2 linked regions of the Homo sapiens genome follow. The protein of the gene in region 2 interacts with the protein of the main gene of each other region in a pairwise test. Each region holds a gene or a part of one and is shown on either strand. Other genes may lie near its edges.

Region 1 (16,219 bases), on a different chromosome or scaffold from region 2:
ATATTTGGAGTAAAGCAGAATAAATAAAAGGCAAACATGACTCGGCGAGATTTCTGACAATAGTTACTAGTTCATGCTTTTATATGAAGCAAATGGACCAGGAGCCAACTAAACATGAAAACCAAGCCTCATAATGGCCACTGATTGTTCATGTCGATCCCCACATCCTGCTGCACCTATATAAAGTGAATTCTTGAAAAGGTGCAGATGCCCTTCCTTCCCCAACAAAAGGGCATCCTCTGCAATACTCCTCCAAGATGTAGCCATGGAAGGTGACAGGCAAAGGAGAGGCTCCCAGACAGCAGAACTGGATTCTTCAGATTTATTGAGTAAGGAAATCACTCCAACATTAGGTAGGAAGTCCTCACATCCCTGTCTTACAGGATGTACAATCCGTATTACGGGCCAGTGACAATTTGTATATATCTTCCTATATTTCCCTTTTGCAAATAGGACTTTTTATTGCAGTCATTCCGCCCTCAATCTACCATTCTATATTGGGTGCATTTGAAGTGGTTAAATTTACTTAAGCTTATTAAACTTAATCTGTGAAGACTATAAATTTAACTGACAGAACTGCTTTCACCCACATTGCAGAACTGGAGATGAATATAGTACCCAGAGAGACATTTTGTTGTCTTTCTTTGGGAGAGAGGTTGAGTGCATTTTATGTAGATGTTGGTTTAGAAAGTATTTGAAAAAATTTAGTTATGTAGATTTCAGTAACCAAAAGGGGTATACTTTAGAGAACACTCACTGCTATTTTTACCACTGAGCATCCTTTCACCCTTCTGCTGGTAGCTATATCCTAATTTACCCCAGGAGAATCATTCCCTCTCCCACTCTGAAAATTCCACTGGATTTGGGGATGAGTACACATGGTGATGAGTATTGTGGCCTTGGCTTAAACCAATCGGTACATCCCAGTTCCCTGGTCCCAATCATTGGTTTAAAGATTTAATTCTAGCCACTCCTAGTTAGTTGAGTTGCCCAGAAAAAGCCCTTACTAGACATGAATTTGGGAAGATGGGAGGAGATGCCACAGCCATATTATAAATGCTAAGAGGGAGCCTGACTAAGAATGAAGCCAACATGAAGAGAAGTGCCGTGGAGAGAATCTTGTGGGAGCTATAGTTTGAGCCCTTGCTCAAATTGCACCTGAAAATAGCACCTATTCTCCTTGGTTTATTCAGCACTCTCACTTCTTGCATCTTTAAGATCATTTTTTAACTTTCCGCCGAAGGATTATCTGGACAGTGCTACTATCCCAGGCATCTCCAACTCTGGGTTTAGGACTAAAGAAGTCTTGGAGGGACCATAATGAAGCAGTATGTGGCTGAATTCTGAAGACTTGGGTTTGAATCTTACTGTACCTCTGACTTGCTGTGTCATCTTGGGCAAGTGGGCTTACTCTCTGAGGTTCCATTTCCTTTTCTTTAAAATGGGATATAAAAGTGCTTGGTCCACTGTGAAGTTCGGGGTCATGCATGGTGTCTATTCCTAGGCTTTTTATTCAGGAAAGTTGGCTCTCTGGGTCCTGAGAGTCCTCTATAAGGCAAAAACCCAGCTAGAATCTAAGACTTGGGGCCTCTAAAGAGCATCTGTTCCAATGCACTGATCTTACAAATAGGGAAACTGAGGCCCAGAGAAAGGAAGGTTCTACATCAAATTGGACAGAGCTGGGATTCCAGCCCAGTGTCCTGAGTCCAGTATCATCGTCATGCCTCTCTAGCTGACCACAGGGTCCCAGAGGCCAGAAGTGATGCTATCAAGTGTGAGTCTTTCATGGTCTTTCTGGCACTCTGCTCTGTTTGGGCCACAGAGGTGTCCTCATAGTGGTGCTCTCCACTGACCCCAGGCTTAGACACCAAACTCTCCCATAGTAATGATCAACCAGGCATCGTCTGCCATGTCCATCTAAGACCCTACCATCTCCTGATCTGCAACAGGAACGTTTCTCTGAGACTCACTTTTTCTCATCTGTAAACTGACTTGACATTAGTATCTACCAAGTTTTGTGTGACGCTTAAATGTAACAAAACATGCTAAACCAAAGGAGATGGATTCTAGTGATTTGGGGACATCTTTTCCCAAGCTGCTTATAGCTCTGTTCCACAGTTTAATAATCCAGTTTTTCTATTCCCGGTTTTCTTCCATGGGTAGTCATGATGGCAGTTTCTTAATGCCGAGCACTGTTTTTCTTTTTGTTTTACCAGGTCCCTAAAGCATTTCCTCATGACATACCACAGACTTTGTTTCTTTAACCTTAGGTTAACTGGATCCCTTCCTCTAGGGAGACAGACATGCAGTTTTTGAAGGAATAAAGTGCAGAGCCCTGATCTGTACACCAACCATCTCTTGCATGGTAATAAGTATGAAGACACCTGAGATCCACCGTTGTTGGTTAATTTCTCCTGCCAATTCTTTGATGGTGGATGTTTTTCACCCTTGCCCAGATTCTGCTTTACTGCCCTTCACCCATTCACTTGTGGGCCTAAAAGGACAGTTCATATTTCCAGATTTTATTAGGACTATGATGAGCAGTAGGGGAGGAAGTACAAACATTGCAGAATTCAAACTTTCTTGGGTGGGAAAATGATAAGGAGTGGCTAAGCCATCTGTTTCTCTGGAAGGTCTAGGGAGATCCAGTTGCCATGTCCACCACCTGTGGATGACACTTCCAGAGGTGATTTAAATGACCCCACCTCCCTTGCAGTCATCTCTTTCTCATCTACTCTTCCTGTCTCAGCTCGGGGTTTTTTTTTCCCCAATACTCTCCCCACCACACCTACTACATCTCCATACTCCCTGGCTCTGTGTCTCCATTCCCATTTGGTCATTATTGACGTTTTATGTATTTTGTTTAAGACAATATTTTAAGCTAAGTTATAAAGGCAACTATGAAAGTCAGAAAATTGGCTGAGGCTCTTGGGGAGAGCTGATGGCCTCAGAGGAAGCAGGATGAAGCTGTTTCTTAGAGTCACAGTTACCGTCTTGGGACAGGTAGAGGAACTGAGGCCCAGGGAAAGGTAGTTGCTGCCTTATTCACACAGGAATGAGCTGTGAAAACCTGGTTGTCTGCCAGATTCTGAAAGAGTTTTTTGTTCTGTGTTGTTTTTTGGTTTTGAGACTTGGAAACATAGTGAATTTTAGGTAAGAACACAGTGACTTTTAGTTAAGGGTGAAGCTGGCATCTGCTATCAGAATGGGGCGACCCGAAACACATTCTTCCTTAGACCTGAGCAACGGGGCTCCTTCCCTGCACCTCACACTTCAGGTCGCTCTGTGCCTTGGGGCGTCTTCCTCAAAATTGTCTATGTTCCCCTGGAGTGCCTGAAGCCAGCCAGGATCAATGGTGCCATGGGGCAGAGAATCCCAGCTTGGACTGAGAACTGCATGGGTTCTAGTCCAAGGGGGTGCTTCTCACTCTGTACTCCTTCCCCCATTGCTAGAATCTAGGGCAGTCATCCTACCACCTTGGATGGCTCCTGGCAGGAGCCTGTGGCTGCTCCTGTCTCTTCCTCAGGGCTTTCCAGGCCATCTCTGTGCAACTCCAAAGGGGCTTTTCAGTTGATGTCTTTTTTTTTTTCCTCTGATTGACCTATGCTCTCTCGGGTCAGTGTTGAGCCATAATGGATTAGGCAGAGACATTTCTTGTGCAAATGAGATGCTCCTCTCACTTCAACCCTGAGCCCCTCCAGGGCTGGCTACATAATTTACAAGACTCAATGCAAAGTGAAAATGTGGAGCTGCTTGTTCAAAAGCAGGAAAAAAAGTGTTAACGGTACTAAAATTAATTTTTTAACTTTCTTTGGCAGTTTCTCTCTAGATCTGCCATGGTGTTAAAAAAATTATTTACTGTTGCTCCTCCACAAGTATGTGGATACTCACAGGGAGAGTGCAGACTCCCAGAGGTGCGCAGGGTCCCTGTCCCGCTACTTGGTGTGTGCAGGACCCACCAGCTGCCAGGGTCCCCCTGTCACCAGCACCCTGGTAGTCAGGGACAAGCGGCCACACTAACAACATTTGAGACAGTAATTGGAAGCCAGTATTCAGAGAAGGCATAAAGGATGATGCAGCCTCACAAGTAATGATGTAACCAACTTTAATAAATGGCATTGGGAAGTGCAGAGGCAAGCAGGTTCCATCAGCCAGGGTTTTCCAGAGAAACAGAACCAATAGTTGATTATCTGGCTATCTATCTATCTATCTATCTATCTATCTATCTATATCTATCTATCTATCTATATCTATCTGTCAGTTAAGATCTGTCTATCTGTCTGTCTACCTACCTACCAATAGGCCCAATCAGGTCTATTTTGTCAAGAAATAAGACCATGTTTTGTCAAACATTTAATGGGACAGAGCCAGATGGGTCCAGACCCAAGGACTAAGCTATTTAGTTAAAGACTGACAGCTCCCTGTGCGCTTAATGTGTGCAGGGACACGCCGGTAATAAAAACAATGTGTAATGTACTGAGGGGACCAGACAGTTTGCTGAGTGCTTTCCAAATACTCCTCACAACAACTGTACGACTCCAGAGGCAGCAACACTCTCATTTTTCAGTGGAGGTAGCTGAAGTTCAAAGAGGTTCAGTGATTTGCTTCCAACCTGTAAGTCTGACTTTGAAGTTCAGGTTCTTAACAACCATGTGGTGTCGACTCCGTGGGCGTGCTCTTTTCTGTAGCCCTAGGCCTAGTGCAATACCTGACATGTGGTAAGAAATGTTAAACAACTTTTGTGTGAATGGTTTGTATAAATGAATGAAGGAATCTATAGGATTTAGGTAGAAGGCAATAAAGGGTGTGTGAAATAGATTTTTTTTTTTGAGACAGAGTGTCACTCTTGTAGCCCAGTGGCATGACCTCAGCTAACTGCAACTCTGCCTCCCAGGTTGAAGTGATTCTCCTGCTTCAGCCTCCTGAGTATTACAGGCACACACCACCATGCCCGGCTGATTTTTGTATTTTTAGTAGAGATGGGATTTCACCATGTTGGCCAGGCTGGTCTCAAACTCCTGACCTCAAGTGATCCACCCACCTCAGTCTCCCAAAGTTCTGGGATCACAGGAGTGAGCCACCACTCCCAGCCTTGAGATAGATTGAATGAGTCAGTCTCAGGTTAAGATTTGGTTAGGAGTGGAAGTGTCCTCCACCAGACAGGTTCTGGGGATCAGCATGTGAGTAACCTGTTTTAGAAAAGCTCAATCTTGTGTGTGTCGTTAATCCGCTATGCAGCTTTGGGCCTGGATCTTCTTCTAAGGGATTCAGTCTCTTTTATGCAAGCTGTGGGTTTGGTCTAGGGGTTAGCATTTTCTGTAAAGGACCAGACGATAAGTATTTTAGGCTGTGCAGTAAATATTTTAGGTCCCTGTTGCCATTGTAGTGGAAAGATAGCCTTAGACAATACATAAATTAATGGATGTGTGGCTATGTGCCAATAAAACTTTATGAAAACAGGTAACTAGGTGGATTTGGTCCAAGGACTGTAGTTTGCTGATCTAGAAAACCCTTGAAGTCCTCTTTTTAGTCTTAACATTCTATGATGTAAACATTTAGAACCAATTATGTCAAAGATAATAATGATTATATACTATTATCTTCTTATGACACCCATGGAAGACATTGCTAATTGGGCACAGGGCTCTTTTCTGATGAGAAAGGAGCTGGCTCTAATCAGTCAATCACAGATTGAGCAATCAGTCAATCACAGATTTAAAAAAAACTTAAGCTGTAGCATTTTCCTTTTAATTTTTTTTTTTTTTGAGACGGAGTCTCAGTTTGTTGCCTAGGCTAGAATGCAATGGTACAATCTCAGCTCACTGCAACCTCTACCTCCAGGGTTCAAGTGATTCTCCTGCCTCAGCCTCCTGAGTAGCTGGGATTACAGGTGTGTGCCACACTGCCTGGCTAATTTTTGTATTTTTAGTGGAGATAGGGTTTCACCATGTTGGCCAGGCTGCTCTTGAACTCCTGACCTCAAGTGATCCGCCCACCTTGGTTTCCCAAAGTGCTAGGATTACAGGCATAAGCCACCGTGCCCAGCCCCTTTTCATTCTTTAAGAAATAAATATTTAGAAAACTCCAGATAATTTCTTGAGTGTGGCACTGAGGAAAATAGGAACAAACAGAGAGAGAGAGAGAGAGAGAGAACAGGAACTCTGTGAGAGAAATCAAATTATCCCCTGGGTGGTGGAAGTGAGAACAAAAATCTTGACCTGAGAGTGTCATTACCCATTGGTGGAAATCATAGCCTCCATTTCTCTCTTACCTACCCTACTAAGTACTCCAACTAAGAGTGAATGCACCTGGCTCATAGTAGTTACCTTGTGCATATTAATTTTCTTCCTTTTCTTTTTCCACCAAAATTTGACTGATGATTGATTATGTCCAAGTCTTCTGATCCACCAAAATTCAAACCATGGAGTGACTTTTGTATAAAGGGATCTGCTGCCAGTTGCCTGTTTGGTTGTGGAATACTTAAATACTTCATGTGGGGCCATCGCTACTTGATAATGAGTGGGTCTTTCATGTCTGTGGAAAGTTCCACAAACCTTCACCTTAGGAATGAATGGGAGAATTCCAAGCATGAAGATAATGAGTCAAGAGCTTGGAGTTTGTAGCTAGATGAGCTTTGGTTGAATTTTATTTTATTTTATTTTTTTAAGACAGGGTATCGCTCTGTCCCCCAAGCTGGAATGCAGTGGCACAATCATGGCTCACTGCAGCCTCAAACTCCTGGGCTAAAGCGATCCTCCTGGCTCAGCCTCCCAAGTAGCTGGGACTACAGGCATACGTACGTCATCATGCCTGGCTAATTTTTTACATTTTTTTGTAGAGATGGGGTCTCAATATGTGGCCAGGGCTGGTCTCAAACTCCTACTCTCAAGGAATCCATACACCTCAGCCTCCTGGGCAGCTGAGACAGCAAGTGTGCGACCCTACACTCAGCTATGGGCTGAATTTTAGAGATAATGGTCGCTCTCTTTATAATTAGAAGCAACCTATGCAGACTGGGTAGCAAATAGAATGGGTTTAATTTTTTGCTGTCATGTGAGATCTGTAAGGGATTTTGGGGAATTTTAGGAAGCAATCCTCTAAGATCTCAAATTATCTCACAGCTAAATGTAGATTACAGTGACTGATGAGCTGCTTTCCCCCTTTATCTCAGATTCATTTCAATTCTCTTTAGTGGGAAGGGATACTATTCATTTGTTCTTTTCATTCAGAGTCCCTTCATGCCCTTAATTTCATAACCCTCTGAGAAGGGCTGACTTGTTAGTATCATTTCATTTCACAGCTGAGACAACTGAGCTCCAGAGAGATTTGTGGAGAGCGGAGCTCTTCTTCAGCTTTCATTTGTGAGTGCTTTTCCTGTGTCAGGCACAGAACAGGCACTGGGGATATAACGGTGTAAATATTTCAGGGAACTAAGTATCAGTTGGTTGAACGAGCTGAACTTTTGAGAAAGAAACTGCATTGAGTAATCAGCAGAGTTTCACAATGCCTGAGAGTCCAGTAATGTGAGAATCAGAATTAGCAATGTGAGAATAGAATGTATTGCACAAAGTCTCAGCAGGGAGTCTGTGTCTGGTTTTAGTTCCAGGTCCGGGTAGCACCTTTGCAATTGACCACTTCTTCCCTCTCTCCACCTATAAGGCTAATGGCCTGGGATCTTGTGATGTTTAGGGCTCAGATGGACACTGAGATGGCCTCTTTAATCAACCAACTTCCCAGGCCAATCTCTTCCCTTTCTTTTCTGATAGTTGCTGTGTTGGCCTCATAGCCTTACCTGGCATAGGAAAGATAAACAATCTCCTTGGTGTCAGGATTTCTGGTCTCTGGCTACGTTTCCTGCTTATGCAATAGTAGCTGGGAGAGGCCGAAAGAATTCTGGTGGGGCCACACCCACTGGTGAAAGAATAAATAGTGAGGTTTGGCATTGGCCATCAGAGTCACTCCTGCCTTCACCATGAAGTCCAGCGGCCTCTTCCCCTTCCTGGTGCTGCTTGCCCTGGGAACTCTGGCACCTTGGGCTGTGGAAGGCTCTGGAAAGTGTAAGTTGGAGTCACTCTGGTCTAATCTGGGCTGCAGGGTCAGAGGTGGGGTCTCCTTGTGGTGTGGGTGTGTCCCCTTCTGTAGGCTCTGATCCCTCAGCTTAGTTTCGGGAGACCTCCCTGAGGGTGGAATACATGTCTGGCTGAGCTCCAAGGTTTGTGTGACAGTTTGAGCTTCTGGAAATGCTTCCTCTATGCAGCCATGCTGTCAGCCCAGGTCCCACTCTCTCTCTCTCTCTCTCTCTCTCTCTCTCTCTCTCATACTCCGCCTTCTTCTTCACCTGTCTGCGACTCTCAAATCATTAGTTTCTGACTCTGCTTCCTTGTGTCTTTGCTTCTGCTATTTTGTCTCTGTGCTTCTGCCTTGGGCTTTAGCTCTCAACTTCTCTCACACTGGTTCTATTTATCTTTGTTTACCTCTCTCCATCTCCATCACTCCCAGCCTTCCTCTCTGCCTTTGTGTAGCCTTGTTTTGCTCTTGGGTGGGAGGTCTTGACTAGAAGCCTGCTGCCCTTTTCTTGGGTGTGAAACGTCCCCTGTCCATTTGTCTAATTTAATCAAGCCCATCAATACACCTGGAGATCAGGCAGGCATGACCCTTTGGGCTTTGTGGACAGCTACTGAGGTAAGGGTCTCTCCCCCTCAAAAGTGGTGCTTTGTTCAGGAGGCATGATGGGTCCTCAGTACCCAGCCTCCTCCTGACCTCTTGACTTTCTCTTCAAAAGCCTTCAAAGCTGGAGTCTGTCCTCCTAAGAAATCTGCCCAGTGCCTTAGATACAAGAAACCTGAGTGCCAGAGTGACTGGCAGTGTCCAGGGAAGAAGAGATGTTGTCCTGACACTTGTGGCATCAAATGCCTGGATCCTGTTGACACCCCAAACCCAAGTAAGCAGGTCGGGGAACTGGGTAGAGAGGAGTGAGCCTGGGGACACAGCATTAGAGGGATGGAACTGGGTGATGGGTCCTGCCAGGCCTCCTTGTCAATCCGTCAGTGAGTCACACTGCCCTAAGCAGGAAGGTAGCCAGCAGCTGGTGAAGCAGCGGGCATTTAGATAGCCAGGTAGTTGGAAGCCTCCCACCTAGTCAGCACTGGGTGGCTGGCCACCTGCATCAATGGGGGGCCTGAAGTTCTAGGAGAGCCAGGTGCTATGTTTGGGGGCCGCCTTAGGGAGAAGGTGGTGGTGATAGAGGTGGGGAGGGGATGATCCCCCCTGCTGAAGCTGGAGCAGGGGCTCACTCTAAAAAGTGGGGATGGGAGGGGTTGTATAAAGTACAAGGCCTCTGACCGGTAGCCTCACTCTCACCCAGCAAGGAGGAAGCCTGGGAAGTGCCCAGTGACTTATGGCCAATGTTTGATGCTTAACCCCCCCAATTTCTGTGAGATGGATGGCCAGTGCAAGCGTGACTTGAAGTGTTGCATGGGCATGTGTGGGAAATCCTGCGTTTCCCCTGTGAAAGGTAAGCAGGGGATGAGGGCACACTGAGCTCCCTCCAGCCCTCTCAGCCTCAACCCTCTGGAGGCCCAGGCATATGGGCAGGGGGACTCCTGAACCCTACTCCAAGCACAGCCTCTGTCTGACTCCCTTGTCCTTCAAGAGAACTGTTCTCCAGGTCTCAGGGCCAGGATTTCCATAGGATCGCCTGTGGCTTTGATTCTATTCTAGTGTCTCTGGGTGGGGGTCCTGGGCAAGTGTCTTTCTGAGTCTCAGTTTCTTTATCGGTAAAATGTACATAATGAGATTGAAAGTGCTCTGCAAAGCACTATGTGCACTAAGAATTTATTATTCAGGTTGTTTCCATCATGTTTTCTGAGGTGAAATCACAAAGGATCAGTGGAGTTTGAGGATTATCTAGTTCAATGCTTTGAGTTTAGAGTTTTACGGTGAAAATGAGACTTGTCTCCTGACACTAAGTCTCTCTCAACTATAGCGCTATCTTGCTATTTTCTCTATCTCAGAAGGATCCTTGGGCAGGAGGAAGGATGTGGATATGATTTGGCTGGTTTCTATGCTGAAGCTCTTATCTGATTTTCTCTCACAGCTTGATTCCTGCCATATGGAGGAGGCTCTGGAGTCCTGCTCTGTGTGGTCCAGGTCCTTTCCACCCTGAGACTTGGCTCCACCACTGATATCCTCCTTTGGGGAAAGGCTTGGCACACAGCAGGCTTTCAAGAAGTGCCAGTTGATCAATGAATAAATAAACGAGCCTATTTCTCTTTGCACATCCTGCTTCTGTGATTCGTTGGGGGTATGAGTGGGGTGGGAAGCTGTGAGGGAAGATCTAGATATGAGGCCTCCTTCCTATGAATACGTAGTGGGAGGAAGAGGCTTAGGGACTGGGGGAACTTGAATTTATATCATGAGTGTGAAAGTGCTGACTCTGTGATTTGGGACAAGTGATTTTATCTCCTAAATTTCAATGGGATTAGGGATGTACAATAACATGAAGAATCAGAAACCTCAATTTTACTGCCTCTGGCAGGATTGTCAACTGCAGGTGAAAAACTTTCCTGAGACGAGTTTATGCATAAGAGATCCTGCCAACAGTTAAGCTATTTTAATCCAGGGGGTTTTCATCTAAAGCCATACAGAACTGTTGGGGCAGATTCCTGTGTTCACCTCTGTATGTGTTACGATATATATATTGGTTTTCACACTTGATATGTTGTAGGTCTGTCTGTTGTCTAATCCAACCAACACTCTCTGGACACTCAGAAAAATTAAGATTATCTGCAACTCACAGCAAATGGAGTCCTCAAAAAGACTAACCATGTTACGTCAGTGCCCACTCTCGATTATTTTGAAAGACTTGGAATGCCCCAAACCTCACTGGACCATTCTGCTACATACTTTTCTCACCTCCAGCAAGGGTTATTCCAGACTGAGGAACCTAGGCTCGGGCAAATACGCTACTAGGAGTGTGCCCCAAGTAGCACCTTGCAGGGGGAGGAGACCTAGCGTTGAAATGAGATAAACTCCTGGGTTACATACAGAACACATGCTGAAAAAGTGACAGTACTATTTTTTTTCTACTCTTCTTCTCCAATTTTTGGATAATGATAAACTTTTATAATCTTCCTTAGGTCAGGTTTTCTGGAAAACAGTCCCAGAGGCAAATGTTTGTGAACAGGGGGTTTGCTGGGGAGTGTCCTGGGGAGTGACACCTGTGACAGGGAAAAGAAAGCAGGGCTGACAGGCAAAAAAAGCAAAAATAGACAAGTGGGACTACCTCAAACTAAAAAGCTTGCAAAGCTAAAGACACAGCCACCACTACCAGTCTCTGCATCTTGATGGTAGTGGTCCCCTGGGCCCAGCTGCTTTCTCTTTATCTCTTGGTCTTGTGTCTTTTACAATCTCTTGTCTCTGCACACAGGGAGAACACCCACTAAGCCCTGTAGGGCTGTATAGAAATGCTACTGATTTTTGTATGTTGATGCTGTATCCTGCATATTTACTGAATTCATTGATTGGTTCTAAGAGTTTATTTGCAGAGTCTAAAGGTTCTTCTGTAGATATAATTATGTTATCTGCAAAGAGGGATAATTAGACTTCTTTTCCAATTTGAAAGGCTTTTATTTCTTTCTCTTTCCTAATTGCTCTATGACTTCTAATATTAAGTTGAATAAGAGCAGTGAGAGTTGGCATGCTTTTCTTGTTCCAGTTCAGTATGATGTTAGCTGTGGGTTTGTCTATATGGCCTTTATTGGGTTGAGATACTTTTCTTCTATACCTACTTTATTGAGAGTCCTTATCATGAAGGGATATTGAATTTTACCAAATGATTTTTCTGCATCTATTGAGATAATCATATGGACTTTTTGTCCTTCATTCTGTTGATGTGATGTATCACATTTATTTAAAACATTCATAAATGATTTATATATGTTGAAACACATTCTTCATCCCTGGAATAAATCCTACTTGATTATAGTGTATTATCTTTTTAATGTCTTGTTGGGTTCAGTTTGCTAGTATTTTATTGAGGATTTTTGTATCTATGTTCATAAGGAATATTGGCCTGTAGTTTTTTGGTGTGTGTGTGCATGTGTGTGTCCACGTGCCCTTATTTAGTTTTGGTATCAGGGTAATGTTGGACTCATAGAATGAGTTTGGGAGAATTTTCTCCTTTCTCCTCCTTAATTTTTTGGAATAGTTTAAAGAAGAACTGATGTTAACTCTTCTTTAAAAGTTTGGTAGAACTCAGCAGTGAAGTCTTCCATTCCTGGGATTTTGTTGTTGTTGTTAGGAAGCTTTTTATTACTGATTCAGTCTCATTACTCATTATTGAACTGCTCATGGTTTCTAAATTTTTTTCTGGTTCAATCTTTATAGGTTATACATTTCTAAGAATTTATCAGTTTCCTCTAGGTTTTCCAATTTGTTAGCTTATAGTTGCTCATAATAGTATCTAAGAATCCTTTGTATTTCTGTGTCACCAGTGGTAATGTCTGCTTTTTCATTTCTGATTTTATTTGAGTCTTCTCTCTTTTTTTCCCTAGGTGGTCTAGTTTATGGTTTGCCAGTTTTGTGTATCTTTTCAGAAATCCAACTTTTTGTTTTGTTGATCTTTTGTAATTTTTAGTCTCTCTCTTGTGTATTTCTGCTCTGATCTTTATTATTTCTTTCTTTCTACTAATTTTGGGTTTGGCTTGTTTGTGCTTTTCCAGTTCCTTGAGATGCATCATTAGGTTGTTTATTTGAAACCTTTCTAGTTTTTTAATGTAGACATTTATTGCTATAAACTCGCCTCTTAATACTGCTTTTGCTGGGTCTCATAGGTTTTGGTATGTTGTGTTTATATTTTTGATTATTTCAAGGAATTTTGAAATTGTATTCTTAATTTCTTTCTTCACCCATTATCATTCAGGTGCATGTTGTTTAATTTCCATGTATTTGTATACTTTTAAATGTTCCTATTGTTATTGCTTTCTAGTTTTATTCCATTATGGTCAGATAAAATACTTGGTATGATTTTGATTTGTTAAAATTCTTGAGACTTGTTTTGTACCCTATGGCTAACTTTTGACATTGTTACTTGTGCTGATGGAATACGTATTCTGCAGTTATTTGGTGAAATGTGCTGTAAATGTCTGTTAGGTCTGCTTAGTCTATGATGCAGTTTATATCTGATATTTCTTTGTTGATTTTCTGTTAAAATAATCTTTCCAATGCTGACAGTAGGGTGTTGAAGTCCCTAACTATTATTGTATTGGGGTCTATATATTCCTTAATATCTAATAATATTTACTTTATATATCTGGACGCTCCACTGTTGAGTGCATACATATTTACAATTGTTATATTCTTTTACTAAATTAGTCCCTTTATAATTATATAATGCTATTCCTTGTCTCTTTTTTCCAGTTTCTAATTTGAAGTCTGTTTTGTCTGATATAAATATAGCTACTCCTGCTTGCTTTTGATTTGTTTTCATGGAATATTTTTCCTTCTCTTTACTTTCACCCTATGTATGTCTTTACAGGTGAGGTTAGTTTTCACTATATAGTTGGGTCTTGTTTTTTAATCCTTTTAGCCAGTCTATATTTTTAAAATGGGGAATTTAATCTGTTTATATTCAGGGTTATTACTGACAGGTGAGTACTTACTCCTATCATTTGATTGATTGTTTCCTGGTTGTTTTTGTATATCCTTTGCTCTTTACTTCCCTTCTTATTGTTTATTTTTGTGGTTGGGTGGTTTTCTGTAATAATAAGGTTTGATTCCTTTCTCTTTCTTCCTTGTGTTTTGGTTCTATCAGTGAGTTTTATAGTTTCAAATGCTTTCATGATGGTGTCAATTCATGGTGCACCATGGGACTGAAATTTAAGTTTTATAATGAATGCTTTTTTCCTTAATTCCTGCTTTTATGTCTTCATGACTGTGTAAAAACTTCATTAGTTGATGGATTCAAAAGACTAACTTGAAGTCATTTTGGAATGTGAATCTGGGCCAGATAAACCTTCATGTCCTCTCTACACTATTCTAAAAATGGATGTTCCTCCTGCTTGCTTGGTAGCTAAAAACATATCTGACTTCAGCAATAGTAAGAAGTAGATTTATTAATGCACACAGAAGAATTGGGACCTGATGTGGGAGGCAGAGAGATGATGAGGGAAAGCTCTCTGGAGTAGCTGCTCTATTTACCAACACCGACCTTTCTTTCTAGCACAAACTTGGGGCTACCTCCACACGTTGAGTGTTTTCCCTGTGTAAATCTGCTGTTTTCTTCTAACTCTGAATTGGCATGTCCTCACTGAGTTTCAGTCCAAATTTACAAAAACAAAATCCCTCCCAACTGATTTAATATGCCTGCACTCATATTTTCAAGTGCCTGCACTCATATTTAAAGTGTCTGTACTTTAAATATTTAAAGTGTCTGCACTCATATTTTCAAGATGTTTGTTTGCAACCCCACACACTGACCTTTCTGTTTCCAAACTAATTTGATATGCACTGCAATTCTGTGATACCGAAACATGAGAAGGATATTACATGAAAGGAAAACAATTTTCCAGCCTTGCTATAAACATAAAGGCAAAAATCCTAAACAAAACTTTACACAGGGAATTTGGTCATATATAAAAATGATGAAACATCATACACAAGTAAGGTTTTATGTCAACAATTTATGATTGGTGTAACATTTAAAAGTAAATCAATGGGATACTTCTCATTAATGGAGTACAGGGGAAAATGTTATGATTATCTTCGTATTGGCTATAGAATGTGTGAAAGAGTCACTTATCTCTTCATGATAAATGAGAAAATAATGACAGAACATTAGAAGTTCACTTATTTGATGGCAAGCCTATACAAAAACCATACAGCAGAGGGAACTACTTTCACAACGGTGGAGTAAAATCTGCTCCTTCATAAAAGGAGGGAGAATAAGTTTAAGAATCCATTATTCAAAATTCTTAGGACCAGAAATTTTTCAAATTTTGGATATTTTCACATTTTGTAATCTTTGCATATAAATAATGAGATATCTTAGGGATGAGAGGCAAGTGTAAACATTATCTGTGTTTCACATATACCTTATACACATAGGCTGAAGGTAATTTTATGCAATATTTTTACCGGTTTCCTGCATGAAACAAAGTTTGTATACACTGAAACATCAGAAAGAAAGTTGTCCCTATCTCAGCCGCCCATGTGGACAATCTGTGATTGTTTAGTATCACCATTGTATCTGACTCGAATTTATATGCTACCAATAAGCAATCATTTTATTACACTTATTCACCCATAAATATTTAACAATAAAAATACGACATACCATTAATACTGTGAAAATAATGTGTTCAGGGTAACTAAGCAGCACAGTAGCATCACCAAAATACCTGCCCCAGCTGTTAAACAACAGCAAGAAGCAACAGCAGCAGGATTTCAGTCTCCATCTACGATGCTGTGTTTTGATTAAACGATTATTGGTCACTGTATTTTATTTTTGTAGGTGAAAAGAGACATCACAAGCAATTGAGGGACCAGGAAGTGGATCCTCTAGAGATGAGGAGGCATTCTGCTGGATGACTTTTAAAAATGTTTTCTCCAGAGTCATCTCTCTCATTAACAATGTTTTTTGTCTTAGAAATTTCTTGTTGATTTTTAAACTTACATGATTTCTTGTTTTGGTATGAATACAGGCTGCTTCAGTCCTTCAATAAGCCCATCACACTTTTTCACCATGTCATCTATCAGCACTTTTTCTGCAGTGTTACGAACATCAGCTTCATCACTGTCAGCCTGCGTTTTGCCTGCAACCCATCAAATGAGGTCAGGAGAGGAGTTTTCCACTTTTGGCTTCATGTTGGTGCTCAAAACTTTTAGGATTTTGGAGCATTTCAGATTTCAGATTTCTGGGTAGAGATGCTCAACCTGTACTCACATATATTTTCAATATCAACTTTTTTTCCCCAGAATTTTGGAATTCAGCCAAAGGTTTGTCACAATCCAAGGAGTGGCATCATTAAGAATCATCAAGAAAAACAAGAAAACTTTAGCAAGAACAGAAAGTTTAGTGGCAGTATAACTTTTCCATTCCCATCTTTGTGCCCAGCTGTGTGGTAGCCTGAAAGCCACCAGGTTTGCTCCACAGTGGCTGTGAAAACCAGCAGCCCAGCAGCCCCTGCACGGGAGGATTTCCTTTCTGCTTTCGAAAGCT
Region 2 (16,615 bases):
GACTCATCTATTCACACACACTACAACGCCCACTTCCCCACACACGCGGCACATGCCGAAACTCTTGGAGACTTCTCTAGTTAGCTCGTTAAGTTAAACAGGAGAAGCAAGTGTGTCATTACAGTAGAAACGCAAAAAAAAAAAATGACATTTTATTTTCAGATATGCTTTTAGTTGCCATGGCAGTCCCCAGCACCATGGAAGTTGTGATTGGTGGTAAATGCATATTTCAAAAAGCAGTAATTAGCTCCCCATATGCAAAAACTTCTGAATATGTTGAGTCCCTTCTCTTGTCAGGTCCCCCCAGGCAGTGTGGACATCAGAGCAAGGCACCCAGATGAGAACTGTCGGGAGCTGATGGTCGCCAGGCTTCTGAGCCCAATACACTTAATGACCTGGAACCTGCCCACAGCTCAACAGGCGCACGGCACTGAAGGTGGCAGCTCCCCGTAAGGAACAATCGCTCCTGCTGCTCAGCTGGCTCTGGTGCCCTCACTGCGGCACTCGCGATGTGCCAGAGAAACACAAAGCCAGGGGACCCAAAATGGAGCTGGCTCCCATAGCCAGAAGCCGTCTCTCCAGAATTCCCCTCTCCCAGTCACAGCTGCCTGCTGGCGTAACGAGGGAAGCCAAGCAGCCCTGCACAAGCCGGACTAACCACCGTCGGCCAACTAATGAAGCACCCCATGTTGGCATCTGCACATAAGACAGACCTCCATCTTCCCCCAATTTAACTGGAAGCTTCTCCAAGACACAGGCACCTCCTGAGTCCTCACAGCCTTATGCATCTTGGGACCCAAGGTGCATTTCCCAATGAGCTTCCTTGTCCCCAAATTAACCGGTTATCTCATTTCCTGATGCGATTCCTAAGGGTGATTAATTTCCAGAATTTGTCCTCTAAAGTCCATTTGCTAATTGCCTTTACAATCGTCATCTGAAAGGTCAGCCGGAAGGAGCTGGATTTTTGAGCCCCAGTCTTGAAGTTAGATCTCTGGGCTAATTCCTAGACCCACATGAGGGTCCTTGTCAGCTTTTTTTTTTTTCTTTTTTAAGACGGAGTCTTGTTCTGTCACCCAGGCTGGAGTGCAGTAGCGTGATCCCTGCTCACTGCAGGCTCTGCCTCCCAGGTTCAAGCCATTCTCCTGCCTCAGCCTCCCAAATAACTGGGATTACAGGTGCACACCACCAGGCCTGGCTAATTTTTGTATTTTTAGTAGAGACGGGTTTCACCATCTTGGCCAGGCTGGTCTTGAACTTCTGACCTCAAGTGATCTGCCTGCCTCAGCCTCCCAAAGTGCTGGGATTACAGACATGAGCCACCGCGCCAGCCCCTTGTCAGCTTTTCATTCCAATAGGTGACCTACCCACTTCCTTTAGCACTGAAAATGCCCCTGGAACACTGCCCAGTCACTCTTTCAGGGCTCAGACCAGTAGGAGGCACTCTTATCCACCCAAAAAGTGATGTAGCCCTGGGTCTACGCTTTGAGTACTCTATCACCTGCATCACTTTTACCAACCCACAATATGCAGAGAATGGTGAAGTAATATTGTTAAGAACATCACTAATCAAATTAGACCATCCAGTTCAAATCCTGGCTGTGCCACTTAGGGGCTGTGTGACCTTGGGCAAGTGACTTAACCTCTCTGGGCTTCACTTTCCTGATCTGCAAAATGAACCTGATAATAACACCTACCTTTTAAAGTTATTGTAAAGTGTTAGGCACAGAGCAGGTGCTACATATGCTAGCCACCTGATACGGTTTGGATTTGTGTCCCCACCCAAATCTCATGTCAAACTGTAATCCCCAATGTTGGAGGTGGGGCCTGGTAACAGGTGACTGGATCACGGGGGTGTATTTTTCCCACTTTCATGCTGTTCTTGTGATACAGTTCTCATGAGATCTGGTTGTTGCAAGTGTGTGCAAACAACTTTGCTGCTTCCCTCCTCTCTTCTCCTCCTGCTCTGGCCATGTGAAGACATGCCTGTTTCCCCTTGGCCTTCCACCATAATTGTAAGTTTCCTGAGGCCTCCCCAGCCATGCTTCCTGTATAGCCTGCAGAACCGTGAGCCCATTAAACCCCTTTTCTTTGTAAATTACCCAGTCTCAGGGATTTCTTCAGAGCAGTGCAGTAACAGACTAATACACTATCATTCTCCATTTTTTCTTTTTGCACTAATACTGACTGAGCTTCTCAGCTCAGATGGGCGCTGGACTGGACACAGGGCCGGATGGAGGTGGGATGTGTGGAAATGAATCCACCACAGATGTAGCCTCACGGAGCTCAGAGAGTCAAGCTGGAAACTCAGACACAAACACACGGAACCGGGGAAGATTGTCCCTACTCCTTCAGTCTGGAGGATCAGCTTGTTCCTGAGAGTATCCAAGAAGGGAGACTTTGATTCTCCCCTTCTGTGGCACTAGGTATGCAAATATGCACTGTATGGCATTTAGGCGCAGGCAGGAGCAACCTTGAAATAATTGGTGTTCAATAAACATATATTGAACACACATTTAATCAATGCCAGTTCCCTTTGGTTCCATATTGACGTTAAAAACAAACCGTAGGCCTGGCATGGAGGCTCACATCTGTAATCCCAGCACTTTGGGAGGCCAAGGGGGGTGGATCACCCAAGGTCAGGAGTTTGAGCCCAGCCTGGCCAACATGGTGAAACCCCATCTCTATTAAAAAAAAAAAAAAAAAAAAATTAGTAGTGCGTGGTGGCTCACGCTTGTAGTCCCAGCTACTCAGGAGGGTAAGGCATGAAAGAGAATCACTTGAACCCGGGAGGTGGAGGTTGCAGTGAGCTGAGATCACGCCACTACACTCCAGCCTGGGCAACAGACTCGGTCTCAGAAAAAAATTAAACACACACACAGAGATAATAAAGACAAAGACTCTCTAGACGTGAAGGTCAGAGAGCGTAACTGGAATATGTTGGTGATGTTGGTGACAAAACCAACAAGGCCCTGGTCATCATGGATAATTTTTTGTATAAATTCATGGGATACAAGTGCAATTTTGTTACATGCAAGGATTGCATGGTGGTCATGAAAAGACATACAAATGACCACCAATTATTATCTTTTCCTTTTTTTTTTTTTTTTTTTGAGACAGGGTTGCACTCTGTCACCCAGGTTGGAGTGCAGAGGCGCAATCATAGCTCCCTGCAGCCTCAACCTCCCGGGCTCAAGTGATCCTGCCACCTCCAGTCCCCTCAGTAGCTGGGACTACAGGCGGGCACCATCACTCCTGGCTAATTTTTGTATTTTTTGTAGAGATGCAGTTTCACCATGTTGCCCAGGTTGGTCTCAAACTCTTGGGCTCAAGTAATCTACCCACCTCAGCCTCCCAAAGTGCTGGGATTGCAGGTGTGAGCCACCACACCTGGCCCCAAGTATACTTTTTTTGGGGCAGGGGGGCAGCGGTGGAACAGAGTCTTGCTCTGTGGCCCACACTAGACTGCAGTGGCACTATCTCAGCTTACTGCAACTTCCGCCTCCCGGATTCAAGAGATTCTCCTGACTCAGCCTCCCCAGTAGCTGGGATTACAGGCGCCCGCCACCGCTCCTGGCTAATTTTTGCATTTTTAGTAGAGACAGTGTTTCACCATCTTGGCCAGGCTGGTCTCCAAGTCCTGACCTCATGATCTACCCGCCTCGGCCTCCCAAAATGCTGGGATTACAGGCAGAAGCCACTGCACCTGGCCCAGCATACTCTTAAATGGACCTCTGTGCTTGTAACCCATGCACCAGATTGGTTGCTGAAGGCCACAGAGGCTGAAATGATGAGGTTGGCCAGTCCACTCAGACTGTATCCACATACCTCCCTTCCTCAGAGGCTGGCGCAGAGTATAATCTTAAACGGATCTCTGTGCCAGCCTCTGAGGAAGGAGGCATATGGATAGTCTGAGTGGACTGGCCAACCTCATTATTTCAGCGTCTGTGGCCTTCAGCAACCAATCTGGTGCATGGGTTACAAGCAGACTCAGCACACCAAAGTCTTTCATGGATTTGATCCCTTTCAAAGTATCTAAAATTCCAATCACTGGGAGCAAGATTGAGCTGAAAATCTAATGTTTGGGAATGGAGAGGGATGAACCTGCATTGTTTATGGGCATAAATAATTCATAAGCATGGGTTAAATGGTTTTTAGCCTCTGGGACCCCATGGAACAGTGGTTCCCAGGCTGTTACTCGAAGACCCAATTCAAAGAATCACCAAGGAACGTTCCCTCCCTTTTAACCACGTTGGGCATCAAGTTACAGTCTTTTCTTTTGCATCTTGTGGTCTCTGCTAGATTTTACAATTGTTGAGGGCCACATTATAATCAGTTTTTTCCCTGTAATGCTTGATAATGGTTTTCCCCTTGGTCCTTTCCTCTAAAACCCTGCAAAGATGCACCACATTTAACCCACAAAAAGAATTTATTTTTGTTATAACTGAACATAATTCTTTCTTGAAGATATCTTTTGGACAAAATGTTCCATTGTGCGGGTCATGCCATATGGTGTGTAATGGGGTACGAGTTGCTGACAAAAAAGACGACAGGGCAGAGTGTGAGCTCCAGCCTGCCCCAAAGCTAAGCCCTGCATTTGCTGGAACATGAGAGCCTGGAGCTCTTAAATATGTAAGAGAGGTTGTCAAATCTACTTAACTGCTTATGAGCAATGAAGTCTCATCACTGCACTTGTGTTACTGACTCTGCAAAGGTGATTGTTGGCCATCATTTTGAATATCTTACTACTAAGATGTATTCAAAAGCACAAAAAAGAAATCTAAAACTGCCAATCTAGGACGTAGAAAATGTCCATGGAATTCCTTGAAAGATGCAAAAGCGAAATCCTTCTACATGATGTAAAATCAAAGTTGTTTTCTCCCTATCTCTGCCCAAAACCAATTAGATATCACGGAAATAAAATATATACACAAGCAAAGCCAAAATTTTAAGTCCACATCTGAAAACTGAAATGAGCTTTTCAAATCAGCTCAATTCTTCTGCAAGTGAGACTTCTCAGGAGCCCTAATGTCCCTTCATGTCCTGGCTTAAATTCGCATAAGCAAAACACCCTAAACCCTGGTTCTTCAAAATGAAAACCAAGACCCTATGAACGGCTCACAATTAAATTAACATTGAAAATCAGAGTAAAATAGGGAACTATATATATTTCCTGAACATAAATACACACACCTCCGTATCAGCTCACGAGCCAGCACCCTACCTTCTTACTTTCCAAGAAGCACTAGAAACTTTATTGCTAAAATCAGAAAAAATACAAGGATGTTTACTATCTCTGCTACTATTAACACTGTATTGTAGGCATTAACCAACATGATTAGACAATTAGAGGCATAAGATGGGAAAAGAAATAAAGTTATTTTAAGGTGATATGATTATATGTATGGAAAATCCCAAAGAATTCATGAAAAAACGATTACAAATAATAGGTGAATTTAGTAAAGCATTAGAATAAGACCAACATACAGAATTTAACAGGACATGTGTAGAAACAGAAGATAATGTATGAGCAGAGCCTATTTATAAGAGCAAACATAAAGGTTTTACAGATTTGAAAAAAACTATCAAAAGGAAAAAGCAAAGCAATTCCTTAAAATAGAAAATGAACTGAAACATGCAAACACAACTGTATTTCAAGTTAATGGCTTAACTACAGAGAAAACCGTTTTTTTCAAGTTACTTTAGAACATAATATTTTGACTGAGCTTTCCACGTGAGACCTAAGTCTCAGGACAAAAAGAACCACAAAGAAATCATACAAAAGAGATTCATGTAACATCATTAGGAATCAAGATTTTCTATGTTAGAGAAAAGAGCTGTAAATATAACAATTTTAAGGTTAAGTAAAAACTCTGAAATCTAGTTTGAATAAAAATATCACTGTGAACTCAATTTATTTTTGTCTTTAAAAAAATATGGACGTATCAGTTGTGTCACTGAAAAGACGTCAAGGTAATAAAACTCAGGCAATGAGCACTCAAATTGTAGTCTCAAAATACCACTTCCGGCTAAGTAATCAGCTCCATGGGAGGAAATACGAAAAGTCTTGTCAGGCCTAAAAGTGGATAAGTTCTCAATGATGCCAAATGACAGAGAAACTAACTGGAAGACACAGCCAATCACCAAATATGGTACAACTCATTATCCTGAAAATTGACATGAATGTAATTGCTAAGGAATAAAGTAATTACTCTTTTAAAGTAATAAGAAAAGAACCAAACAATTGTCCTGCTTTTTCCATACAGATTATATTCCAGGATAACCAAATAGTTGATGAAGCAACTCTCTTTTAGAGAGGTATCATAAACCGATAAAGAAAAAATCATAGATTAAAACACCACCATAATCCGGAACTTGTCTCCAGACTATGAAAGTACCCAGATGGCTCCCAAACCTGGCCCAGCTGGGAACTGCATGCAGCTGAGCCCACCATGCTCTTTAGTTTCTGTGCCCACCTGTGTGCGGAATTTATTCCTTCTGCTGGGTTGTTGGTCTCGCCGACTTTAAGAATAAAACCACGGACCTCGCGGTGAGTGTTACAGCTCTTAAAGATGGCGCGTCCGGAGTCGTCTGCTCCTCCCGGTGGGCTTGCGGTCTTGCTGACTTCAAGAACGAAGACGCAGACCGCGGCCGTGAGCTTTAAAGGTGGCGCGGACCCAGAGTAAGCAGTAAGCTTTATTAAGAAGCAGGAAAGAAAAAAACACAAACTCAAGCGGATAGCACCCCAGCGAGCTTCCCCAGCGGGCTCGGGGAGCCAGCTTTTATTCTCTTATTCAGCCCTGCCCATGTCCTGCTGATTGGTCCATTTTACAGAGTGCTGATTGGTCCATTTTACAGAGTGCTGATTGGTCCATTTTACAGAGTGCTGATTGGTCCATTTTTACAGAATGCTGACTGGTGCATTTACAATCCTCTAGCTAGACACAGAGCACCGATTGGTGCATTTACAATCCTCTAGCTAGACAGAAAAGTTCTCCAAGTCCCCACTGACCCAGAAGCCCAGCTGGCTTCACCTCTCACACCCAGGGGCCACTGCTGGAGGAGCAGCCCCAGCCCTTGTCCCCTCACCCTTCCCCCATGGAACCTGCTTTGGGAAAAACAAACTGGAACAATAAAAATGCCCCACATTCCAAATCAAGCCCTTGTCAAAGTCCCTTGCTTTCAGCCCAGGAAGTTTCTAGAAGCAGTCAAGCCACAGGACAGAGAAATATCTGGTGGCCCAGCTCTCCCTGGAGAATCCATCTCCCACCTCCAAAAGGAAGCACCCAGACCATGGAGGCCACAGCCCCAGGCCTGGCTTTCCTGGTAGGATAATATTTAGGGTTACCCTCTTTCTCCTGGGGCAGCTGGTCTAGCTCCGAGAAGGTTCTCTGATGGCTGTGCTGGCTCACGCTAAGCCCACCTGGAGTAGGCCAGTGGCTGGTGGCCACCTTCAGACCTGGGCTCACCCGGGGGGTTTGCACTGATGGACGCCCTGGCAGAGATCACAGAGGCAGGTTCTGTTAGACACATATGCACACATACACTCTTACACGTATGCTCACTTACATGCTTACACATACACTCATATGTACACACTGACACTTGTGCCCACCCACTCACACACACACACTCATACACACATATACACTCACACACACCACACATACACACATATACATTCACACACACATGCACACACACACCACATGTACACACACACGTATACATACACACACTAACATACACTCACATCCACACATACATTTACATACACTCATCCACACACACCCACGAACATACTCATACATGCACACCACACATGCACATTCTTACACACACGTACACTCACATAGACTCACATACCACACATGGACACACGTGCATACTCATACCACACATGCTCACATAAGGACACAAACTCACACATCAGATACACTCATAAACACGCACACTCACAAGCTCATACATGCATGCACTCATGCACACCACACACACACTCATACATATACACACTAACACATGCACACATACATATATACACTCTCACTACACATACGCATATAAACTCACAGTTATGCACACACTCATACACATATACATTCACACTCACACTACACATACACATATACACTTACACTTATACACACACGCACAGCACATATGCACACACATACACATAACAAACACACTACACAGACACGCACCACTCGCAAACATTCCCACTTATGCATTCACATGCATGGCACATACACAAACATGCACACACATCACACACACTCGTATACACATGCACACACACACTCTTACATACATACACACGTACACACCGCACTCCCATACATGCACCCTCACATATACTCCCCCTTCCTTCTGTTTCCATGATGTCTGCTGTCTCCAAGGCTTTCTGTTTTTGAGTCCCCTGCTACAATTAAAATACTCCTGAGAGCAATTAAGCTTTGGCAGCTAATAACTTAATTACCCACTAATACCGTATCTTCCCATCACCCTCGCCAAGCAGGAGCAGTGAGGTATGAGACGGATTCACTCATTGGAGGCAGACCGTGGGAAGATCCAGGATCCTAGAGTTTGGCGGGAAGCTCAAGAGACCCATGCTGGAGCCAGAGGCCCATGGGCCTCCTTGAGTCCTGGGGCCGAATCCTTCGTTCTGTGCACCTACTACAGAGCAGTGTCCTTAACCAGGGCTTAAAATTATCTACCAACATGAAGAGTGACCTACAAAAGAAACTGACCTGATCAACCCCTAGTTCACAATTGGGTAGAGCGAGACAGAGAGGCTGAGTGGCTTCCCAGGGTCACACAGCTTCTCTTGCAGGCCAGTGCCTTCTTGATGCCAGACCAGGGGTCCTGGGATGGGTGGTGGCAAGACCCTCACACCAGCCTCCCTGAACTCACTCCCCACTCCACCCTAACACTAGCATGGCAGCACAGAACTTCCCAGAGACGTTACAGAACAGCAGAGATTGGAAGTCCAGTGTTGGCCCCCAGTCTGGATAATTCAAGCAAATGTTTGAAGGGAGGATGTCCTGAATTTGCCATAAGCTGTATTTCTCCCAGGACGACTGAGAAGCAGTATCTGTAGATGGGGGAACATGAGCTCTGTACCCCTCTCTGTTGCCAAGTTCATCCATTTCATGGCAATGGTTTCCTTCCATTTTTGTGACATGCTTGGATGGCCCAAGACTCCACTGGTCATTTAATTTCCCTTCCCAGCCCCCAAATATATATCCTGAATTCCACATATGCTATGGAGTGAATTGTGTCCCTCCTCCAAATCCTTACGTTGAAGCCCTCAACCCCAATGTGACTATATCTGAAGATAGGGGTTTGGGGAGGTCATTTTAAATGAGGTTTTAAGGGTGAAACCCTAATCCAATTGGACTGTGGCTTTATAAGAGGAAGAGAGGGATCTCTATCTCTGCCATGTGAGGACACAGCAAGAAGGCAGCTGTCTGCAAGCCAGGAAAGGAGTCCTCCCTAGAACCTGACCATGCTGGCACTTTGACCTTGGACTTCCAGCCTCCATAGCTGTGAGAAAATAACAGCTGTTAAGGTATAGTTTAAGCTCCCCACCCGCTAGTCTATGGTATTTTGTTATGGCAGCCTGAGCAGACTACTACAAGGTACCTAGATCTTTCTCCCTGTGGGAGCACCTGGGTCTAATTCATACCATTGTGTCATCCACTCCAGATGCACCTGTATTTTCTCCTTCTTATAAAACGGGGCATGCCAGCTCAAATGCCTACAGGGACCAGCAGTCATGCCAAGAGGCAAAGACCACGAGGAAGTGGCTCCCTTTGTGCAAGGCGGTAGCCACGACTCATCACCCATCCATTGTTGCTATGAGTGAGTATGGCCCGGCATTGCCAGATGTCATGATTTAAAGAGGAGCTGGAAATCCAGATTGTTAATAAATCAGCTGATTTTTTAAATGCTGGCAACAACTTCTAAGTTTCAAAACACTTTGGGAGAAAACCAACACACAAGTAACACAAGAAGAAATAACAAACACACAAGTAAACAAGAAGAAACAACAACAAACCTGTTTGTGGGCTGAACCAGGCCTGTGAGCCACCAACTCACAATCTCAGTTTCGTCGATCCTCCTGGGAAAATGCTGGAAGCCTGAGCGGTGACTAAGACAGCAGGGTCCCAGGCAGTGGGGCAGAGGCCCGTGAGGGTACGGGGGGCGCGGGGGGCATAGAACTGCGCTACTGGACGGTGACACCGCCTGCAGGTACCACCACGCTCCTTCACCTAGGGCTTCCTTTGGCCAGTGCCCACCCAGGTGCCTGAGTCTGATCTGTTCCCAGGGACCAGGATCCCACATCTAGAGGCAGGACAAAAACAAACAGCCCCAGCCCTGGGCTCCATTTCTTTTAAGGTTGTGGGTCTGCTTCTGAAGCTGATCACCAATGCTTGTACCGTTCCCTTCGCCCTACCCTTGACATTTTCCAGTCTCCACCTGTGATGTTGAGGTGGGAGGCAGGACTTGACTCCAGACCAGACTGAAGACTGGCTAAAATAGGGAAGAGGCCCTGGAAGCACCTCTCCGTGAGACACACCCACCAGTGCCATGACAGTTTACCATTGCCATGGCAACACCCAGAAGTTACCACCCCTCTTCTAACAATTTCTGAATAGCCTGCTCCTTAATTTGCATATAATTAGAAGTGGGTATAAATATGACTGCAGCACTGCCCCTGAGCTGCTGCTCTCCACACACTGCCTATGGAGTACCCCTGCTCTGCAGGAGTAGTCACAGAGCTGTAATGCTGCTACCTCAATAAAGCTGTTTTCTTCTGCCACTGGCTCAGCCTTAAATTGTTTCCTGAGTGAAGCCGGGAACCCGGCTGGGCACGGTGGCTCACGCTGTAATCCCAGCGCTTTGCGAGGCTGAGACAGGTAGATCCACCTAATGTCAGGTGTTCAAGACCAGCCTGGCCAACATGGTGAAACCCTGTCTCTACTAAAAATTCAAAACTTAGCTGAGCATGGTGGTGTGTGCCTGTAATCCCAGCTACTCAAGAGACTGAGGCAAGAGAATCACTTGAACCTGGGAGGCGGAGGTTGCAGTGAGCCGAGATCGCGTCACTGCACTCCAGCCTGGGCGGCAAAGTGAGACTCTGTCTCAAAAAAAAAAAAAAAAAAAAAAAAAAACAAATAACAAAAAGAACCTTCCCGGGCTTCATCCCGATTTGGGGACCCACCTCTCCTGCATTAATGTCAGCATCTATCAGCCGAGGGTTGAGCTGGGGTGGGCTGGGCTGAGCTGGGCTGGGCTAGGCCAGGAGGCAGAGAAGTGCAGGGCACAAAGAGGCCACAGAGAGCTGAGACCAAGTCTTTGGTCCAGGGCAAGTCAGTGGGGAAAGGTGTGCTTTGCCAAGGCATGCTTCAGGTCTCCAGGTCAGCTGCCAGATGGAAGCTCAGCTTCCCCGGGATTCCCATAGAGCCTGAGTCTTCATCCAGGCCCAGAAACCTGGAGATATGCTCAGTGAGTACAGGCGGAGGGCGGTCCCAGCCGTGATCTGGAGGCCAAGGATAATAAGACAACAAGCGTTTGAGAAGCACCACTGCTGTTTGGTGCCCTCGCCTCCCGAGGGAGGACATGAGTGAGATGCCCCGTGCAATGGGATTGGCAGAGACCTTGGGCAGACCCCTGCGGTCTCTGGCCATCAGCCTGCCAAAAACATCCTGCCTCCCCCACTCCACCTTTCCATCCCAAATGACACAAAGATTAAGCACCAGCCAACAAAATCAGGTTGCAGGAACCACAACCAGTTTGTGTGGATTTGCCTGAGCCAGGGTGGGAGGAAGTAAATGAGAACCTAAACCAAAGGTGACAAAGAAATCAGTTGCAAGCCTGGGGTGGCTTTCTACTTCTGTCCCCGCTACCGTGGGCACTTGCCACATAGTTCTTGGTTACCAGCCAGCATGCTTTACCAGCACTGGTTCCTAAGTGACTATTTAATCATGCATTGTGTGTTTGAATGTATTCATTATATTTTAATATGATTATGTTCAATCCAATAGACTGAAACTGATTTGTCCAGATGTATAATTATTTTCTAAATGCTTATAATTCTTGGCGGCAGAGTTGGCAGAGGTTTTGAGAAAGAAGAGGAGTCCATTAGCTCTTCATGTTCATTAGTCATGGTTGTGGGAGCCTCATCAGTGGGTTTGAGGTAATCGGTGCCATGCTACCCTGGGACACCCTGGCCTTAAACATGATCACAGAGACCTTGTGTTTTGAGCCCCATGCAGGGAATCACTGGGTCTCTAAGTTTCATCTGGAGCTCCTCCCTCTGCTGAGCTGTTTTTCCCTGTTCCTCTTTTTGTTTGTTTGTTTTAAGGGTTTTAAAATGTCCAACTTTAATTTAGATTCAGAAGGTACATGTGCCGGTTGGTTAAATGGATATATCGTGTGATGCTGAGGTTTAGGGTAAAAACATTCCCATCATCCAGGTAGCAAGCATAGTACCCAATAGGTAGTGTTTCAACCTTTGCCCCCCTCCCCCTCTTCCCTCTCTAGTAGCCCCCAGTGTCTGTTCTTCCCATCTTGATGTCCACATGTACCCAATGTTTCTTTCCCACTTACAAGTGAGAACATGCAGTATTTGGTTTTCTGTTCCTGCATTAATCTGCTTAGGATAATGGCCTCCAGCTGCATCTATGTTGTTGTAAAGGACATGATCTCATTCTTTTTCATGACTGTGTAGTATTCCATGGTGTATATGGACCACATTTTCTTTATCCAATCCACGAATGATGGGCACCTACGTCGATTCCATGTCTTTGCTCTTGTGAATAATGCTGCAATGAACATACAAGTGCAGGTGTCTTTTTGGTAGAACAAATTATTTTCCTTTGGGTTTGGGAAGGGGCTCTGCCCAGGGTGACTGTCGCACTGCACCCTCCAGGGCTCTGGAAGACAGTAGTCCCCAGATTTACCACAGTATCCCCAGTACCTCAGCCATATATTCACCACTTCTGGACAATCGCCCTCTGTAGCTTCCCCGCCCCGGCTCACATAGGGCTCCTGGAGTTTACCAGAGCTTTCCACAGAGATTCTTAGTCTTTTGCTCAGCCCCATCTGGATGGGTCTCCCTGTAGTTCAAGCTCTTATGTCACTGGGTGATGTGGCTTGCACCTATAACCCCAGCCCTTCAGAGGGCAAGGTGGGAGGATTGCTTGAGGCCAGGAGTTTGAGGCCAGCCTGAGCAACATGGCGAGACCCCGTCTCTACCAAAAAATCTTTTTAAAAATTAGCCAGGCATGGTGATGCATGCCTGTTATCCCAGCTACTTGGGACACTGTGCCGGGAGGATTGCTTGAGCCCAGGAGGTTGAGGCTACAGTGAACTATGATCATGCCACTGCACTCCAGCCTGGGTGACAAAGCAAGACTCCAAGTAATCCCTTTGTTTTTTGGTTTGGCGGACCTCTACCCATTGAAAAGCCTAGAAGTAGATTCCCAGAAACACCAAGCAGCCAAGAAGATGGATGCCCATCCCAGTGGGTGCAAAGTTGAGCTGGACAACACACGAATGCCCTGCTGACGACGCCCTGCCGCTGCTCAAAGCATCACAGTTCTCACCCTACTGCTCCAAAATTCCGTGTTGCACATGATAATTGTGCAAATGGTCTAAAATGGATTGTGATCACCACAACCCATTTTAGACCATTTTCATCATTCCCAAAAGGAACCTCATATCCACTGGCACAGTCACTCCCTAGTCCTTCTTTGGGAAGGAAGATTCCTCAGGTCTTCCTTCTTTGATAACCCATGGAATCTTGGGGCAGGGCATTTGGCTGCCGTATTTTCCTCAGGATTCATGTCTGGATTGGCTCAGGTAATCCCCTAAGGCTGGGTTTGGGAGGCACTGATTTGCCTTTCTTGGCTTTGACTGCATGAATACGGGTGTCCCAGAAACCCCACTTCTCCCAGTTGGCCTTAGAGTCATCCTGATATAGAATGGCTGGGCTCCTGACTAAACCCCACCCTCAAGCTTGGAGCCTCGGCCCTAAGTGGAAACAGCTGGCCCAATTTTTCTGCCCAAATGATTGCCTTATTGGCCTGCCATACCCCTATCCTGTGCTCATAAAAAGAGAAAAGAGCAACACAAGTGGCTGACCGGCAAGGATACAAGTGGCTGAGCAGTGAGCAGAGAAGCAAAAACTGAGCGTTGGAGACTACAGGTACATGCAGCTAACTTCAGATGTGTGGTTTTGGAGGGGAGCCCAGCCAGACATGGCTGAGCTTCAGGGAAAAGATCACCTTCTCCCCACACCATCCCCTTTCCAGCTCCCTCTCCACCAAGAGCCACTTCCACTGCTCAATAAAGTCTTCTGCATTCATCACCTTTCACACAGTTCATGTGACCTGATTCTTCCTGGACACTGAACAAGAACTCGGGTGTCAAAAAGGACAGGTGCAGAAGACTGTCACCCTGACCCTTCACGGAGCCGTTAACACTTAGCTGTCCACAGTCTGCAGGCTGAGTGAAATGAGCCACTTCAGTTCCTGCCCACGAAGGGGCAAGTTAGATGCTCACATTAACCCTAACCCTAACTCCCACCCTAACATTCACCCTTGGGTTGTATGAAGACATGACTAGAAAGAAACTTGGGAAAAGAAGGACAGAGGTAGCCAGACTCATAAGATTGAGGCACGATCTAAAGTGGTCCATCCTGCCTTGGCTGGAGCCCAGCATGAAATAACTACATGACCTGGCTCTAAACCCCACAGGCAACACTTCCTCTTGCAACCCCAAACAGGGGCAGATTTTGCTGAGTAGATGCTGGCTGGGAGGCTTCACTCACTTCAGAGTGAAATCTGAATCTAGGGCTCCCCTTAAGGAGGGAAGCAGGGCTACACCGAGAGGGAGAGGAGCTGGCATTCACCTGGGCACCTGTTTCAGGTCATGAGAAATCACCTTTTTAAAAAATTCCCCCAAAGGCAACAGTGCCTCTGCAGAAGACAGGTTTACCAGGCCTGCTCCAGGCTGATCTGGATGCATCTTTTTTTTTTTTTTTTTTTTGAGACGGAGCCTCGCTCTGTCGCCCAGGCTGGAGTGCAGTGGTGAGATCTCAGCTCACTGCAAGCTCCGCCTCCCGGGTTCACGCCATTCTCCTCCCTCAGTCGAGTAGCTGGGACTACAGGAGCCCGCCACTACGCCCGGCTAATTTTTTGTATTTTTAGTAGAGACAGGGTTTCACTATGTTAGCCAGGATGGTCTCGATCTCCTAGTGATCCACCCGCCTCAGCCTCCCGAAGTGCTGGGATTACAGGCATGAGCCACCACGCCTGGCCGGGATGCATCTTAAACATGCATCTGCAAGGGCCTTTTTCATATAATAACTTCTTTCCTTTTGGGTAAATACCCAAATTTCCCAATTTCCAGGGAGTTCTGGGTCTAGAAACCCGGGCAGGTTCTTACTGCACTTTCCTTTGCGTCCAGTGCGTTTTTAGAGTGAGCATTGTCTGGGAACTTTCCAGAGATCAGATTCCTTTCTTAAAAAAATGGTAATTTATTTCAATAGTTTTTAGGGTACAGGTGGTTTTTGGTTATATGGATGAGTTCTTTAGCAGTGATTTTTGAGATTTAGTGCACCCATCACATACTGTACCCAAGATGTTGTCTTTTATCCATCACTCCACTCCCAACCTCTCCCCACCCTGAGTCCCCACAGTCCATTAGATCGCTCTGTATGTTTTTCTATCCTCACAGCTTAGCTATGAGTGAAATAACTCAGGAATGGAAAACCGAAAGAATAATTCTTATTCTTCATCCTTAACGTAAATCCTCACCTTTTCCGAATTGTTTTTCTCTCTCTTCATCAACCTTTCTGCTTTTAACATCTTATCTTCTTGGCTTTATCTTTTACATGAACTCTCATGGTGTCATTTTGTCTTTATTTTATCTTATAACAGTCATCATATTTCAGATGATAAGATTTCATTTTATCCTACTTTTTTTTTTTTTTTTTTTTTTTTTTTTAGACTAAGTCTTGCTCTGTCAGCCAGGCTGGTGTGCAGTGGCACAATCTCAGCTCACTCACTACAACCTCCGCCTCACAGGTTCAAGTGGTTCTCCCGCCTCAGCCTCCCAAGTAGCTGGGACTACAGGCACATGCCACCACACCCAGCTAATTTTTTTGTAATTTTTAGTAGAGACAGGGTTTCACCATGTTGGCCAGGCTGGTCTCGATCTCCTGACCTCATGATCTGCCAGCCTCAGTCTCCCAATATCCCACTTATTAATGAGAATATATGGCATTTGGTTTTCCATTCCTGAGTTACTTCACTTAGGATAATGGCCTCCAGTTCCATCCAACTTGCTGCAAAAGACATTATTTCATTCCTTTTCACAGCTGAGTAGTATTCCATGGTGTATATATACCACATTTTCTTTATCCACTTGTGGATCGACCCGCACTTAGGCTGGTTCCACGTCTTGCAATTGTGAATTGTGCTGCTATAAACATACATCTGCAAGTGTCTTTTTCATATAATGACTTCTTTTCTTTTGAGTAAATAGCCAGTAGTGGGATTACTGGATCAAATGGCAAATCTACTTTTAGTTCTTTAAGGAATCT

What was found.
Region 1: the proteins of CALN1 (region 2) and SLPI interact in binary tests that used the Homo sapiens proteins (3 or more experiments, as listed by UniProt).

What each region holds. Positions count from the first base shown.
Region 1 is NC_000020.11:45,246,297-45,262,515, reverse strand, and holds SLPI (antileukoproteinase precursor), read left to right. Parts: upstream 1-7,951; 5' UTR 7,952-7,972; coding exon 7,973-8,057; intron 8,058-8,782; coding exon 8,783-8,941; intron 8,942-9,364; coding exon 9,365-9,514; intron 9,515-10,096; coding exon 10,097-10,101; 3' UTR 10,102-10,277; downstream 10,278-16,219.
Region 2 is NC_000007.14:72,405,585-72,422,199, forward strand, and holds the start of CALN1 (calcium-binding protein 8), read right to left. Parts: upstream 6,755-16,615; 5' UTR 6,474-6,754; intron 1-6,473. UniProt on the Homo sapiens protein: Negatively regulates Golgi-to-plasma membrane trafficking by interacting with PI4KB and inhibiting its activity. May play a role in the physiology of neurons and is potentially important in memory and learning.